Linked DNA regions of Homo sapiens: all the other regions are linked to region 1. Evidence: fine-mapped expression QTL. A gene starts in region 1. Each other region holds a variant in brackets. All regions are shown on one strand. Distances are between the middles of the regions.

Region 1 (5,340 bases):
GAGTGTTCCTTCAACACCCAAGTTCCTATTAATCAGAGACTAACATTCATAAAAGAAAGTTGAGGACTGGGTGTGGTGGCTGATTACTGTAATTCCAGCACTTTGGGAGGTTGAGTTGGAAGGATCGTTTGAGGCCATGAGTTTGAGACCAGCCTGGGCAACAAAGTGAGACCCCATCTTTACAAAAAATTTAAAAAAGAAAGTTGAGACAGTCTCTGAATAACTTGACCTTACAAAGATGGCCTGTAAATGGGGAGAACAAGAGCTAGTTGTCTTTTTAGGAGTGATTTCTACTTTCTGACATGACCACCTAAACAGCTAGGAAAATGCATCCCTCAAATATACATATTAAGTGTCCCTTCACTAACTTTCCTTGGTGCATTTTTACCCCCAAACTCTCCACGCTGAAAGGAAGAAAAGCATTTTATGGAACAAAACCAAATTGCTCCCACTCCTGCCATCTGCACCCTCCCAGGTTTTTATCTGGGATGGACAGACTCCCGATGGTGAAGAGAGTTAAATACGCAAAGATCAGTTCATGATGCAGTCAACTGGAAAAGCCAATGAAGTGAAATGCAAAGGTATATTTGTATGTCTTAAGTTGTTTTTTAAAGAATAAAAACAACAGCCAACCAAAGTGCCTTGAAAACCTCCATCTCTCTGAGGTTAATCAATTCTCTTTGTTTTAGAAGCAAGTCTAAAATAAATAGTTGTTTTAAAATAAAAACAGCAATAAAGGGCTTTTTAAGATAAGCTGTGAGAGAAACTTCCGAGCAGGAGACACCTCTGGAAAGCACTGTTATGGGTGCGGGTGAAAGTACACATTCTGGGGATCGTCTCAGAAAACATTAGCCCTTCCCATCAGCTGTTTTCTGGTAGCCTCACAGATACTGGTTCTCTCTACAAGTCCATTCCAGGACAGTATATTTCTGGACGTAAGATGTCAAAGACTAGTTTCAGAAAAACTAGTCATCCCCAGAAATGGTGATAAAAATAAGATACTAAGATCATGACAGGGTCCTAAATGATACCGTTCCATTTAGTTGGTTTGGATAGGAATTTAAAAAGCCTTATTTTACCTTGTAACATAAAAGGAGGGGGATGACTAGTTTTTCTGAAACTACTAGTTTTTCTGATACTGTCATGATCTTAGTATCTTATTTTTATCACCATTTCTGGATTCCCAGTCGGATGTAGGATATTAAGCGCAAAACTTTGGGAATATAAGACCTAACACGCAAAGTCAGAACAATTCATCCAGTTCTAAGCCTTGTGTTCAAATTTGCTATGAGCATCTAAATTCATGGTTCTGAAAGTATTTTAACGGACCACCTGCATCACCTTCCCCAGTGTCTTTTATTATTACTATTATTATTATTATTATTATTATTGAGACAGAGTCTTGCTCCGTCGCACAGGGTGGAGTGCAGTGGCACAATCTCTGCTCACTGCAACCTCCGCCGCCTGGTTTCAAGCGATTCTCCTGCCTCAGCCTCCCCAGTGGCTGAGATTACAGGCCTCAACCACCACACCTGGCTAGTTTCTTATATTTTTGGTAGAGACGGGGTTTCACCATGTTGGCCAGGCTGGTCCCGAATTCCTGACCTCAAGTGATCCGCCCCGCCTCTGCCTCCCAAAGTGCTGGGATTACAGACGTGAGCCACCGCGCCCGGCCTCTTCAGGGTCTTTTCATGTTAAATTAGATTCTTAGGACCCACTTCACACACCTATTCAATAGGAATTTATGAGCTAGAGCACGAGACATGGCATTTTTAATACGCCCCTGGGGTGAGTTTAATACACACTTTAGTTTGAGAATCACTAAATTAAACCCACAGACTTCTTTGCTGTTTTGTCCCCAAGATATCTATCTACGTGGAATGTCAGTCCCTTCTCCCTTCCAATCTAAAGTTATTTCCTAATTAGACGCAGTAGTTAACAAATCCTCCAGTTCCCCACCAACAGCAGTTTAAAAGGAAGCAAGACGTTAGGAAAGATTAAAGACTGCACGATTTTAAGTGTTTGGGGGCCTCTGGCACATCCTAGAAAGAATCATGCAAGAAAGAACAAGAGTAGCTAGTTCTCCATTGGCTCAGGACCAAAATGATCCCTTCCCTCTCTTCTTCACCTTAAGCATGAGCAACATCTCTGGCAATTCCGTGGCACCCATCAGATATGATTTCCTCTGGCGACCCCCAACCCTATTTAGAGAATGTCCCCTCTTCACAGAGCTGCCTCATGATTGGTGTGAACACATTTCACATACATCATCAAACCCACACACCCGACTACAGTCCCATGGCCTCCTCGGACTCCCGGGACTCGCTGCCGCCTCTGCTCCATCTCTAAACTGGGGCTCTGACCCACAACGGCGCACGCGCCCGCCCCCAACTCAGAGCAACTTTCCCCACTCCTCGGATTAACTGCTACCCTCTCCGAACGCCGGCCCGCCCCAGGTCCGTCAGCGCACACCCCGGTCCCCGGGGTCCCGCTCCGGGAACTCCGGCCCTCGGTTGCCCCTGGCTCCCGGTCCCCCAGCGGGCCCCTTCCTCCCCTCCTCAGAAGGATGCCCTCCCAAGGTATCCCAGATCCGGCCGGCCCATGCCCGGGGACCCGGCCACACGACACGACTGCCCCTTTCCGCCTGCCCGAGAAGACTCGGGCTTGTTTTGCAGGGCAGGGGTGCGGTCCGTCCTCCGATTTGCCTCTCCTGCCCTCTCTCCCTCCGGGCTGCCCTCCTTACCCGCCTGCAGCCCGGTTTCGGCGACATCGCCTGCAGGGCCGCGCTCGGCCCCGCCGCCGCCCGTGAGGGAGGAGAGACAAGTGTGGTTGTGGGAGCACTTGATGTCGCGGAAGAACTTCTGGGTCTCGCGCAGGTTCTGTCGCAGCCGTCCCAGGTAGCGGCGGTAGCGGCCGAAGCCCCGGCACAGCTCGCGGATCATTCCGCCGCCGCCGGGGCCGGGACCCGAGACGGGCTCGCTGCCCCATGGCACCCCGTCGCCCTCCATCGCCTCTGCCCGCTCTGTCTTTGCGGCTCGGTCCCCGGCCGCAGGCCCGGCCTCCCTCCTCCCCGCCCCCCAGTGCCGAAGGGAGGAGGAATCCGCCTCCTGACGCCCCCGCCTGCAGTCAGCCTGGCTCCCAACCTCCGTCACTGCCGTTGCAAACAAACCAAACCGCAGTGCGCCGCTATCGGAACCTTTCTCTCCACTATCCAGAAGCGTGAGGGAAGGATCGCTGGAGGACACCCTCGCCGCGGGGTCTCCTGGGACTTGCAGTCCGGGCTGGGACCAAACGCCAAAACCTCAAGGCTGGAGAAGGGGAGGCTGTGGATGGGACTGATCCCTTTTGGAGAAAACCCTCACTCGTTCTTGTGTTTTCGCGCTCTCTTCATTTTAAAAAGTGTTCCTAATCCCTCTATGAGCGTCCCTGAGGAGAGGGAGGAGCTGCAGGACCTGAGTGCCAGCAGAAGTGGGGGGGCCTTACCGAAATCGTAGCGAAAGATGTTAATAGTAGAGAAAAGGAAGGAAACAAGACTGAAGACAGTCATCTCCATGGCTACCCTAAGTGGCTCTCTAGTGTTTCGGATACAGTAGATACTGGGGAATCGGCTAAAAGTACCCTGGAAATCGGCTGAAAGTACCCTGGAAATAGGGAAATCTCTTATATTTGCATTGCGTTCCCCTTTTCCAACTTTCCTTCTCCAGACTTGGAAAGGAAGGGTGTGAAAGGATCAACAAGAGCTGTAAGCTGAACTTCAGTGGGTTCCTGAAGTAGGGAGACCGGACTGGGTAAGGGGAAGTTGAGGTTTGTAGCCTTCCAAACTATTTCTGATTATCTTAACTTGGTTTCTGCTAATATGGAGGACTTTCATTGACACACACAGTCACAGACTCCTGGACACAATTACAAAGGGGGCAAAACTTGACGTCACCTCTTTTGTGCTTCCTGAATTATCTCTCCCCTCTTCACCAGGCACAGAGCCCATCTGTATCTTTCTTGCTATAGAAAGACACCGTCTTTTACCTAGGCCAGACTTCTTCTCTGATAGGCTACATGATGTAGTTCCTTGACTGAAATTAAGAGGAGATTTGAGTTTGGATCTGGACTCTTCCTATACCTTGCATTGTGATCTCGGGCAAGACCCCGTTTCATCTTCTATAAAGTAAGGGTTTAGAATGGCAGATCTTTAAGCCCTTTTGGTTTTAAATTTTTGTGAGTCCTGCTTCAGAAATTTTACTTCTCCTGACCTCTCATCGCAGAACACCCAGGTGTTCTTAGCCAAATGATGTCGTGATATTTGGATTAATTGTTGTAAGATGTGAAGGCCTTACCTTTCCAGGGGCATTAGCATTTTATAAAAAGGGGTCACTAATTCAAATGAATCTGTATTTGATAAATGTCTGTGAGGGCTGACTGCAAGGAGGGAGCCTCATGCTCCTTCCCATTTACCCACTCCCCCTTCTGCCTTTTACTTGGTCACGTATTTTCCATCAGCCATTCTTCTTTTGCAAGATTATATTCCCCATGCAATCCCCAAAGGTTCAGTAAAATAGAAATGAAAATTAAAAATGGGAATTTTAATACAAAGTAGATACTATTTTTAAAATAGAAGAGCTGTAAGAAAGCAATGTGTAATGATTTGCCACACACACGAATTTCTAGCACAGGAGATCAGATAAGAGCACTCAAGCTGGAGTTATCCAGAAAAGGAATCTATCTTGAAGAAGGGGCAAAATTTAGATAGGTGGAAGTAATCAGAGAGGGCATTATTTCAGGTAAATATCACAAAGCCCACCCTTTTAAAAACTATTCCTTAGTACTTTGCATTTATTTTCAAAATAAGTAATACACGAATGTGGTATAAAATTCAAATGGTGCAAAGGATATATAAGGAAAAACTAAGTCTTTCTTAGTTTTTCTGTTCACCTCCCAGTCACCTAGTTCCCCTCCCAGGAGGCAACCACTGTTGTAGATATAAATCATGTATAAATAGATCCTATATATGTATTTATATATGTGTATGCATGTATTTTAAATACAAATGATAGCATACGTAATACATATTTGATTATGGCCTTGCAGACTTCTGTACCAAAACATAAAGGTCTGTTTCATTCTTTTTAACTGTGTAACATACTACCACATGGATTGGCATGTTTTATTTAACAAGTCTTCTATTGGCGGACCTTTAGGTTTTTTGCAGTCTTTTGATATTAAAAACAATACTGCAAGAACTAATCTATGTACATCATTTTGAATATGTGTAAGTATATCTCATACCTATTTTTGATCTGTTGAGAAAGGCAATAATTTTTTGCTATTTAAAATCTTAAAAAATGC
Region 2 (5,000 bases), 100 kb before region 1:
TTTCCCTGATCCCTGTCCATACCCTCATCAATTCTCCCACCCAAGCAAATTTGAAACAGTGAAAAAGCATAAAATCCACAGGTCTAATAACAGGGAAAATTCTGAGTAAAATTAGTCTTGACAAAATAAAACATGATCATTAAAAAAAAGTAAGAGGCCAGGTGCAGTGGCTCACGCCTGTAATCCCAGCACTTTGGGGAGGCTGAGGCGGGCAGATCACTTGAGGTCAGGAGTTCGAGACCAGCCTGGCCAACATGGTGAAACCCCATCTCTACTAAAAATACAAAAACTTAGCCGGATGTGGTGCCTGCACCTGTAATCCCAGCTACTTGGGAGGCCGAGGCAAGAGAATCGCTTGAAAACAGGAGGAGGAGGGTGCAGTAAGCTGAGACTGTGCCATTGCACTCCAGCTAGAGCGTCGCAGCGAGACTCCATCTCAAAAAAATTAAAATTTAAATTAAAAAAAACGCATTCAGGGCCAGGCGCAGTGGCTCATGCCTGTAATTCCAGCACTTTGGGAGGCTGAGGTGGACAGATCACGAGGTCAGGAGTTCGAGACCAACCTGGCCAACATGGGGATACTCTGTCTCTGCTAAAAATACAAAAATTAGCCAGGCATGGTGGCACGCACCTGCAGTCCCAGCTACTCGAGAGGCTGAGGCAGGAGAATCTTGAACCCAGGAGGCAGAGGTTGTGTGAGCCAAGATGGCGCCACTGCACTCCAGCCTGGGTGACAGAGCAGGACTCTGTCTCAAAAAAAAGAAAGAAAGAAAGAAAGAAATGTATTCAGTAGAGCCAACCTAGATGGAAAGATTATTTTATGTAGAAGGTTTGAAGAGATGTGTATTTGCCTTCTAAAACCATAAACTAAAATTATCATGAGCCCAGAGCTAATCCATATAGAATTAGACCCCACCCCAGGAGAGAAATAGCTTAAACATACTGATCTCGTGGATGATATTGGACTTTTAAGATGGGTGAAGGGAATCGAAACCTCTGGTCACAGTCGCCTGAAAGAACATCCCACTGTGACACTATGTTATCAGTGGAAGCACTCACGAGTTTATGACCATCTCGGCTCCAGCTGAGGAAAAAAAAGGGGTAATTTAGCACATATTCTAAGTATATCATACCACTCTCATGAATAAACTGTGTAAGTCACACACATTGCTGCAACTGCACAGGTCAACAATGTTTTTGGTTTTGTTCCACGTATACTCAAATCCATAAGCTTTTCCAACTAGGCAATTAATAAGAAGGTTTTCATGACATTTTACTATCTAGTAATGGAAGCTCATAATATTTCAAGATAAAACTATAAAGTGACTCAGTGAAATAAGAGATTAAAACATCTTAGAAGAGTCTAAAAAATCAGCTGCGCTTTAAGAGTTGATATATTTGAACTTTCTGAAGTCATCTCAGAAGTAGCACCATCATGGTATAAACAAAACAAAAAAATGATAAGTATCTGTTATTTAAAATAATTTTAAAAGAACTGAGAAAGAATTAATTCCTCCTGGTAAGTACAGATAAACACACTGGACATAATATATAAAACAGACAAAAAAGGTTCTGAAAGGTAGACAAAGGACAGGCAAGCCAGAGACTGTAGAATCTTAAGGATGACACAGTAGTGAAATCCCTGAATTTTCTGCCTCATGTTCCCCGTTCTGGGTGAAGGAGAAGCCAACAACCTGGTAATGCCAGTGGGCACGCATAAAAAGCCCCAAGAAGAGCTAAGGGACCAGAAAAGGACAGCCCAGCAAGACAGAAAACTTTAAGACAATAACCAACCTACGCCAGCCAAACATCACAGAAAAGAAATGCAAATCCCCCTCTTAGCCAGGTTGAAGCAGATAGCCTAGACTTCACCTTTATCCAGCTATAACAAGGCACCCTCCCCACCTCACTGGGGTGGTGTCAGAGAAGGATCAGTAGAGAATCAGATTTGCATTACCACCAGCAGTAATGAGGTCGCACCACCATGGTGTCAGAGAAGGACACATAGAGAGAAGGAACAAGGAATTCCTATCCTTCCCAGACAGGATGTTATCAGCAGAGACCTAGTGGAGAGCCTAAACTTCCAATCCCACCCAGCAGTAATGAGGCCAAGTAAGAAGAAACCTGGACTTTCACCCACCTCTGGGAATAACAAGATGGTACACTCCATTTCCCTGTGCAGTATCAGAGGAGGCCTGCTAAACTAAAAGATTTAAATAACATCTATAGGACGGGCGCAATGGCTCACACCTGTAATCCCAGCACTTTGGGAGGCCAAGGCAGGCAAATCACTTGAGGCCCAGAGTTTGAGACCAGCCTGGCCGACATGGTGAAACTCCGTTGTCTACTAAAAATACAAAAAATTAGCCGGGCATGGTGGTGTGCACCTGTAGTCCCAGCTACTCGGGAGGCTTGAGGCAGGAGAATCGCTTGAACCTGGGAGGCAGAAGTTGCAGTGACCCAAGATGGCGCCACTGGGCTCCAGCCTAGGCAACAGAGTGAGACTCTGTCTCAAGAAAAAGTAAAAAATAAATAAGATCTACAGTCTCATAATACCCAAAATGCCCAGGTTTCAACTGAAAATCACTTGTCAACTCAAGAACAAAGAAAATCTCAACTCGAATAAGAAAAGACAATCAATAGACACTAATACAGAAATGACATAAATGTTAGAATTATCTGACAAGGATTATAATGCAGCCATCATAAAAATGCTTCAACAATTATGAACATGCCTGAAACAGATGGGGAAAAAAGCCCAGAAAATCTTAGCAAAGAAACAGAAGATACAGAGAAGAACCAAATGGGAATTTTAGAACTGAAAAATATAGTAACAGAAATAAACTCAATAGATGAATTCAGCAGCCAATGGAGGAAAAAAAGGGAAAGAATTAGCAAACTGGAAGATGGAATAAAAATTACCATAGACATATATATATATGTGTCTGTGTGTATATATGTGTGTATATGTATGTGTGTGTGTGTGTATACATATATATATATA[C/T]ACACACACACACATATGTATCTATACACACAGAGCCTCAGAGACCTGTAGAACTATAACAAAAGATGTAATATTCATGTCATCAGAATCCTGGAAGGAGAGAATACAGACTGGGATGTTAAGGTTATTTGAAGAAATAATGGCTGAAAATTTCCTAAATCTGGCAAGAGATACAAAACCTACAGATTCAAGAACATCAACTAGGATGAGCCCAAAGAAATCCACTCCGAGAAATACAAACTTCTGAAAACTAAAGACAATGAAAAAATCTTGAAAGCTGCAAGAGAAAAATGATGCCTTATCTATAGGGGAACAACAATATGAATGAAAAGGGATTTCTCATCAGAAACCATGAAGGCCAGAAGGAAGTGGCACATTTTTCAAGCACTGAAAGAAAAGAACTGTCATTCCAGGAATAAACGGGTAAACTGAGACACTTGTTGCTAGCAGACATACTCTAAAGAATGGCTACATAATGTTCGGAAAAGATTAAAGGAAGGGTTTAGAACATCAGGAAGGAAGAATGAACAATGAAAAGAGTATAAATATATGGGTAGATAAAATTACTTTTTCTAAGCCAGGTGCGGTGGCTCACGCCTATAATCCCAGTACTTTGGGAGGCCAAGGTAGGTGGATCACCTGAGGTTGGCAGTTGGAGACCAGCCTGGCCAACATGCTGAAAACCCGTCTCTACTAAAAATACAAAAATTAGCCAGGCATGGTAGCACATGCCTATAATCCCAGCTACTTGGGAGCCTGAGGCTAAAGAATCGCTTGAAACCAGGAGGCAGAGGTTGCAGTGAGCCGAGATCGCGCTATTGCACTCCAGCCTGGGTAACAAGAGCAAAAATCTGTCTCAAAAAAAAAAAAAAAAAGGCAGGCGCTGTGGCTCACGCCTGTAATCCCAGCACTTTAGGAGGTCAAGGCGGGCGGATCATGAGGTCAAGAGATCGAGACCATCCTGGTCAACATGGTGAAACCCGGTCTCTACTAAAAATACAAAAATTAGCTGGGTGTGGTAGTGCACGCCTGTAGTCCCAGCTACTCGGGAGGCTGAGGCTGGAGAATCACTTGAACTTGGGAGGCGGAGGTTGCAGTGAGCAGATATCGCAGCATTGCACTCCAGCCTGGGTGACAGAGCATGAATCCGTCTCAAAAAAAAAAAAAATTACTTTTTCTCTTCTTGAGTTTTGATGTTTGAAACACACATTTTAACACTGTCTTATGTGGGTGTCAATGTATGTAGAGCAAATATTTAAGACAATTATATTACACACAAGAAAGGACAAGGGGACAACAGGAAGGTAAGGTTTCTACACTTCACTTGAACTGGTAAAATGTTCACCAATACAACTTATCACCAGTAGACTGTGGTAAGTTATAAATGTATGATGTAAAACCTAGTAACCACTAAAGCTACACAAGGGTATACACTCAAAAAACACTACAGATAAAGCAAAATGGAATTCTAAAAACTTGTCCAAGTAGCCCACAGGAAGGCAGGAAACAAAAACAAAAAACAAATGGAACAAGTAAAAAAGTAACCCAAAACCGATACTTTACCCAGGTTTTGAAATCAAGAGGAGGTGCTATTGAGAAACTCAGCAGGCAATATAATCTCCATGGTTAAGAATATGGCTCAAAAGTCAGACTTCTACTCAAGCCTAGACATTACTACCTCCTAGCTGTGTGATCTTAGCACGTTACTTAAGCTTTATGGGCTTCAATTTCCTCATCTATAACACAGGAATAAAAACGGTATCGACCTGCAGAAGGCTGTTGAAAGAATTTAATACATACAGAATTCTTGGCTTGGCACATAATAAGTACTCAATGCCTGATACATAATAAGTGCTCAATGCCTGGTACATAATAAGTGCTCAAAAAATTATTTATATCAGAGACAAAATAAATATACTGCCAGACTCAGGACTCTAGGAACAGAGGAAGGCAGGGGTAAGCTAAGGTTATAAATATAGAGGGATTAAGTTAAAGC
Region 3 (5,340 bases), 750 kb after region 1:
ACTTAAAACTGTGATGATATAAAAGTAATGCTGTGGCTCACAGAAACCTGGAGGAGGGGCAGAGGATATAGATTCCCACATCCCTCCCAGAGGCGGGGTGATAGGCTTTATCTAGAGCTGATGCATTAATAATAAGAAATAAGGAAAGGAAGGAAGGAAGAAAAGAAGCAAGGAAGGAAGAAAGGAAGGAAGGAAGAAAGGAAGGAAGGAAGAAAGGAAGGAAGGAAAGGAGGGAAGGAAAATAGATAGATAGATAGATAGATAGATAGATAGATAGATAGATAGATTTATTTAAAGATATTGAAAGTCCCAAAGGCAGCAACCAGAAGACCCAAAATAACAAAAATTAGGAAAAGGGAGAGGAGAGGTTGGAACAGTTTCAGGAGATGTGTCATTGAAGAATTATATATTACCTCAAAAGTGCATGTAAGCTGGGTACAGTGGCTCATGCCTGTAATCCCAGATACACAGGAGGCAGAGGTGAGAGGATCACTTGATGCTGGGAGTTTGAGACCAGCCTGGGCAACCTAGCAAGACTGCCTTTCTTTCTCTCTTTCTCTTTCTTTCTCCCTTCCTTTTCTTTCCTTCCTTCCTTTCTTCCTTCCTTTCTTCCTTCCTTTCTTTCTTTCCTTCTTTCTTCTCTTTCTTTATACAGGGTCTCACTAAATTGTCTGGGCTGATCTCGAACTCCTGGGCTCAAGAGATCTGCTCCCCTCGGCCTCTCAAAGTGAGCCACTGTGCCCAACTGATCCTGTCTTTAATTAAACAAAGTGCATGTGGATGAGGCATCCACTCCCCACTATGCCCAAGTTTATCTGTGATACGAAAGCAGTTCTCCCCTCCCCACCTTCGAGTAAAACCGAGGCCCTAGGTTCTGTGTCACAGTTTTCCCTTCACTTGGAGTTCCCTGACCCACCATGGCATGGCTTAGCGGGAGAGGCACAGCTTTTGGCAAAGGCATTTTAGGCACTGATGGGAAATGACAAATGGTATATGTGGCCTGAGGGACCCAGAAAATTGCTCTTAGTCCATCCTGCTGGTCCCGAAGGGAAACCCTAGTTGTTCCTTTTATCAGGGCTTTGGTTGGAAGAGGGGGTGTTCCTCCTCCCCAAATGGCCTCTGCCCCTGGGGAGGCTGACTGAGCCACAGGAAGCTTGCTTCTGAAGCAACTCAGAGTGAAGGGGTTCTGGTTCTTTCTTCACTGGCTCTCTTGGCGTCAGGAGGCCACCAGAAATGGGCACAGAGCTACCTGCTGCCAGCCTGTTCCCTCCAGTCCTTCCCTTCCAGACCTAGGCTCCCTTCTCCCTCCTGCCCTAACCCTGTGGTTGTTCCTCCAGCCCCCATCTTCATCTTAACCACAGTTAGGTTTATCTGACTTGGCTGTATTTCAGAACCTTCTGGAGGAGTTTTTAAAAATACAGATTCTTAGGCCTTATCCCAAGAAATTCAGGTTGACTGTGCCTCGGTGGGACCTGGTTGTGAGCATTGTGTAAAAGCTCCTCAGCCGCTTCAAGCACACAGCTAGGTCAGCGGAGCCCTGCCTTACCCCCAACCCTGCCTTCTTTCCCCACTTGCCTCCCAAATATGTGTTCTGTGTTTTCTGGCACACATGACATGACTTTGATTGGTAATTGATGATTTTCCACATCATCACTTTTAAAATCAGATACTCTCTGAAACGTCCCTCTGTCTGCCTACTGTTTCTACCTCGTCCATGAGGCCCATCATCTTTATCAGCAGTGTCACTGTAGAAGACTCATCCCTGTCTCCCAGAGCTGCTCCTAACCTCTTGAGGCTCTAGAAGGCAGCCCTGAGCTGGCAGAGAGTGCAGCTCTACATTTTTCTAGCCAATAGCAAAATGGTCACACTGGGGCCTGGCTCCATGTGCGTCTCGGTCTCAGCCCCAAGTCAAGCCCCTCTTCCTCTGAACAACTGGATTCTTCCAATCTTTTTTTGGGGAGACTCTCCACAGTCCCCAAGGTGAGAAGAAAGTATTGGTTATGTACATCAGCCAGAACCCCTAGCTTGTCCGCAGGCACTGTATTTCCTTACTGAGCTCATATTAAGCAGTGGAACTGATAATACCATCTCGGCCTGTGACTTCCACGCATGAAAATATGCACCAACGAACCTGCATTAAATGGTTGGGAAATCACCCCTCCTAACCATTCCACGGCATCCACTGTAGGAAAAAAGAAAAAAAAAAAAAAAAAAGAAAAGCGGGAGACTGAACAAACAAGCTTTAGGATGAAGATGATAACCCCAAAACAAAATTCCAAGCACCAGTGAAGAAGAGGTTATTCTGAATTGGGGATAGTGTTGTCACTCCTCAAATTGCAGCCATTTCCTATGGGACACACTGAATGGAGAAGAAACTAAATGTGTGTGTGTTTGAATGACACACCTGAGTTACAGTTTGCTAGTTATTTCTGCCTCCTCTGGCAAAGGACAAATAGAGGATTTTCTAGAGAAAAATGATGGAAGTCCGAAGGAGTCATCACTAGGTGCTTTGTCCTTTTTGTATTCTAGTTGCACCCACCTCTTGGATTGGATATAGCAATAACATTTATTGGCCGTTGTGAGCTCTTGATCCCAGTCATTACCCCTGAGAACTAAAAATAGATGGTTCTTAATTCAACTTACTGAAAATTTCCCCAAACAATAGCAAATCTGACTTTTCCCTCTTCAGTTGCCTGGTATTAAGGTTGGATAAATGAAGCATGCACAGCTACAGGCTTTCTACTTAACTTCTGGGTTTGCTATTACAAATCCTATTTACTCTCATACCCTTCTCCTTAGTCCTTCATATTTCTCTGCCTCTATTCTTCTATACTGCAGATTTTTCTCACCTATTGTACAAAGAAATTGCGATGTATATTTTCATGTAATTTGATTTTGGAATTCTGTCACCTTATGTAGTGAGTTCTTCCAAAATATAATTTTTTTTCAATAAAAAAAAAAAAAAAAAAAAAAAAAAGAAAAATGATGGAAGTCTGTAAAAACTCATTTGAAAGGTCAAG[A/ATTT]TTTTTTTTTTTTTTTGCAAATGACCTTGTTCAAAGAGCTTCAGGCATTTTGTCCTTTAGCAGTCCAGCCCAGGTCCAGGCTGGAGAGTGAGATGGTGAAAAAAGTCAGAGGTCAAGAAAGACAGCCCAGTTAGAAACCCCTGATGCTGCTGGTGGGAACCACCTCTCAGCCTCACTCTAGCATGACTCCTGCCCAAAGGAAGATGAGAGTTTTAGCTTGGGATCGGGCGGCGGGCAACCAGAACCCCAAAGATCTGCTTACTCCCTGGAGCTTTAGCTAGAAGACATCAGTTTGAACTGACTGACATCTCCCCCCAGCCCCCTGGGTCTGCCCTGCAGCTTCCCAGGAAAGGAATCGCCCAATTAATGAACACCCCAGGCCACTGCCTGGAGGCTGGTGTCAACCTGCTGCTTCCCTGGGTCCAGAGACTTGTGACAGCTCTCTGGCTTTTCTCCTCCACTCCCAGCAGTACCGCCTCCAATTTTCTGTTCCCAAACATCACGCTTCTCAAAGTTCCATCATACAGAGAATGCTCTTTATTAGTTATATATTTTTCTGCTTATGAAAGTAATTTTTTGCCCACTATAAAAATTCAAACAAGATAGTAGTGTGCAAATAAAAAAGCACGTCTAAATAATCTCATTTTCCTCAGATAATCCGCCTTAGCAGTTGGGTGTACACCCTTTCAGATCTTTCTCTTAAGTGTGTACAAACAGCTTAATGTGCCAAGCTGTTTGTTTCCCCACACCTTTGACCATACTGTCTGCCCTGCTTCCTGGAATGCCCTTTCTTCTCTTTTGCCAGGCTGACTTCTGCACAGCCTTCTGAACTTAGCAAACTTTCTCTTTCTGTCGTCCCCCAGCCTGGAACAGGTACCTTCCCCTGGGCTCCTTGACCCCTTGCACAGCGCTGTCATAGCACCCAGCACAATGAGTGATCAACTCCTCTCTGTTTAACCATCTGTCTCCCCGACTAGAATATAGTATAGGTTAGTGGCCAAGAGGTGGGGGCCAAGGTGGACCCCAGTTCCCTCCCTAGGTGCCCCAGCCCCTCTGGCTCTGTCTGACTGTCCCATTCACTTTAGCATCCTCAGTGTCTAGCACACTGCCTAGCACATGGTTGGTGCTCAACAGGTATTTGTTGAATGAGTGAGTGAGTGAATAAGTTCTGGGTCACCACAGGTGTCCCCACCATGGGGCTCTTATATACAGGTAGAGAGCTGCAGAGAGGGGCAACCACCCAAAAGCAGAAGAGCTCCATGTTGCTGAGCCCCAAAAGTTGCCAGTAACTTACACTAGCTGTGTAACCTTGAGGGAAGTCCTCTCAGGATGCAATGAGAATAAGAATTTATAAAGTGAGGCTCCCTCCTACCTCCCACCGTGGCTACACTCCCACTCCCACTTAGGAGGCAAAGAGGCCCTTTCCTCAAGCCCAGTGAAACACTAAGAGCTCAGGTCTCTAATAAAGCTTGGCATGCTTGGCTCCCAGAGGCAGAACTCCAGACGTACCTGCTGTGTGACCTTAGGCAGGTGCCATAACCACTCTGAGCCTCCTCCTGCAACAGGAAAATTAGAATGCACTCAGTAATACCTATGTCACAGGTTAGGGAGGAAGACTAAATTAAGTGTGAACGTTGGAGGCTCTGTCAATTCCATAGCTGTTTGTTCTACCTCCCCCCAACCCCAGGCGGTTCAAAGTAAGATCAGGGTTCTAGAAACCTGGACTTTAGCTCTGCCCCTCAGCCCAGGAGACTATGGGTGCATCTGTGCTGTTTCCTCATCTGTAACATGGAGCCAGGAGTGTTGGACAAGATGGTTCCGAAGGCCCCTTCCAGCCTCTCACATTCGAAGTGCTCTGAAAAGTAAAATGTTCTGCAAAGTGCCCCAAGTCCTTGGGCTATCATTTGGTTGTGAGAAAATAGGCTCTGCCAGTGGCCAGCTCTCTCGCACCATAGCCCCTGCCAGTCAGAACTGGGAACACGGAGACTGGCAGGCCACCAGCTGGAACACCCCTGACCCTGGATTTCTGTGTTGGGGACTGTGACACTACCTGATGCTGCTCCTTCCCAGTCCCCAGCAAGGGACAGATGTGAGGACAGTTTGTGTTGTGCGTCTTTTGACTTTTTTGGAATGTGATTTTGCTTTTGGGCAGTGTGGGGTCTAGTTGGGGAGGGAACACTGATGGGTGACCCTGATGTGGGGAGTACTCATTGAGCACTGCAGTCTGCAGGGGCTCTTGAGGGCTGGGGTTGAGCTGGGCTTTGAAAGGTGCTTATGATTTGGGTATGTTAGAGGGAGGGTGTGTTGTGGGGGGGTTGAG

Which allele goes with the higher level. Positions count from the first base shown, and alleles are read on the strand shown. Sizes are in standard deviations (SD) of each study's normalised expression. Not every link is listed here.
As copies of ATTT replace A in region 3, the expression in skeletal muscle of the gene that starts at base 3,175 in region 1 goes up (large effect, 1.4 SD a copy in FUSION).

What was found. PIP is the estimated chance that this variant, and not a neighbour inherited with it, causes the effect. A credible set is the group of variants that fine-mapping cannot tell apart.
Region 2: its variant is the best candidate, but not a certain one, in a credible set for the expression of DSTYK in nasal epithelium (TOPMed, PIP 0.50).
Region 3: its variant is the best candidate, but not a certain one, in a credible set for the expression of DSTYK in skeletal muscle (FUSION, PIP 0.56).

What each region holds. Positions count from the first base shown.
Region 1 is chr1:205,208,528-205,213,867 of GRCh38, forward strand. It overlaps DSTYK (dual serine/threonine and tyrosine protein kinase), which reads right to left and starts at 3,175. Exons shown (of 13, transcript NM_015375.3): 1 at 2,744-3,175. The coding sequence starts at 3,008. RefSeq lists silencers at 2,505-2,554, 2,975-3,104.
Region 2 is chr1:205,104,085-205,109,084 of GRCh38, forward strand. It overlaps RBBP5 (RB binding protein 5, histone lysine methyltransferase complex subunit), which reads right to left. Exons shown (of 14, transcript NM_005057.4): 4 at 944-1,084. Among named protein-coding and RNA genes, the nearest start is that of RBBP5, 15 kb to the right of the region's middle. RefSeq lists enhancers at 734-878, 2,075-2,219 and cis regulatory regions at 806, 2,147. The variant C/T (reference allele first, on the strand shown) is at 3,005.
Region 3 is chr1:205,955,436-205,960,775 of GRCh38, forward strand. All of the region lies in intron 2 of SLC26A9-AS1 (SLC26A9 and RAB7B antisense RNA 1), which reads left to right. It overlaps LOC103021295 (a long non-coding RNA gene), which reads left to right and starts at 2,490. Exons shown (of 1, transcript NR_110982.2): 1 at 2,490-2,953. The variant A/ATTT (reference allele first, on the strand shown) is at 3,021.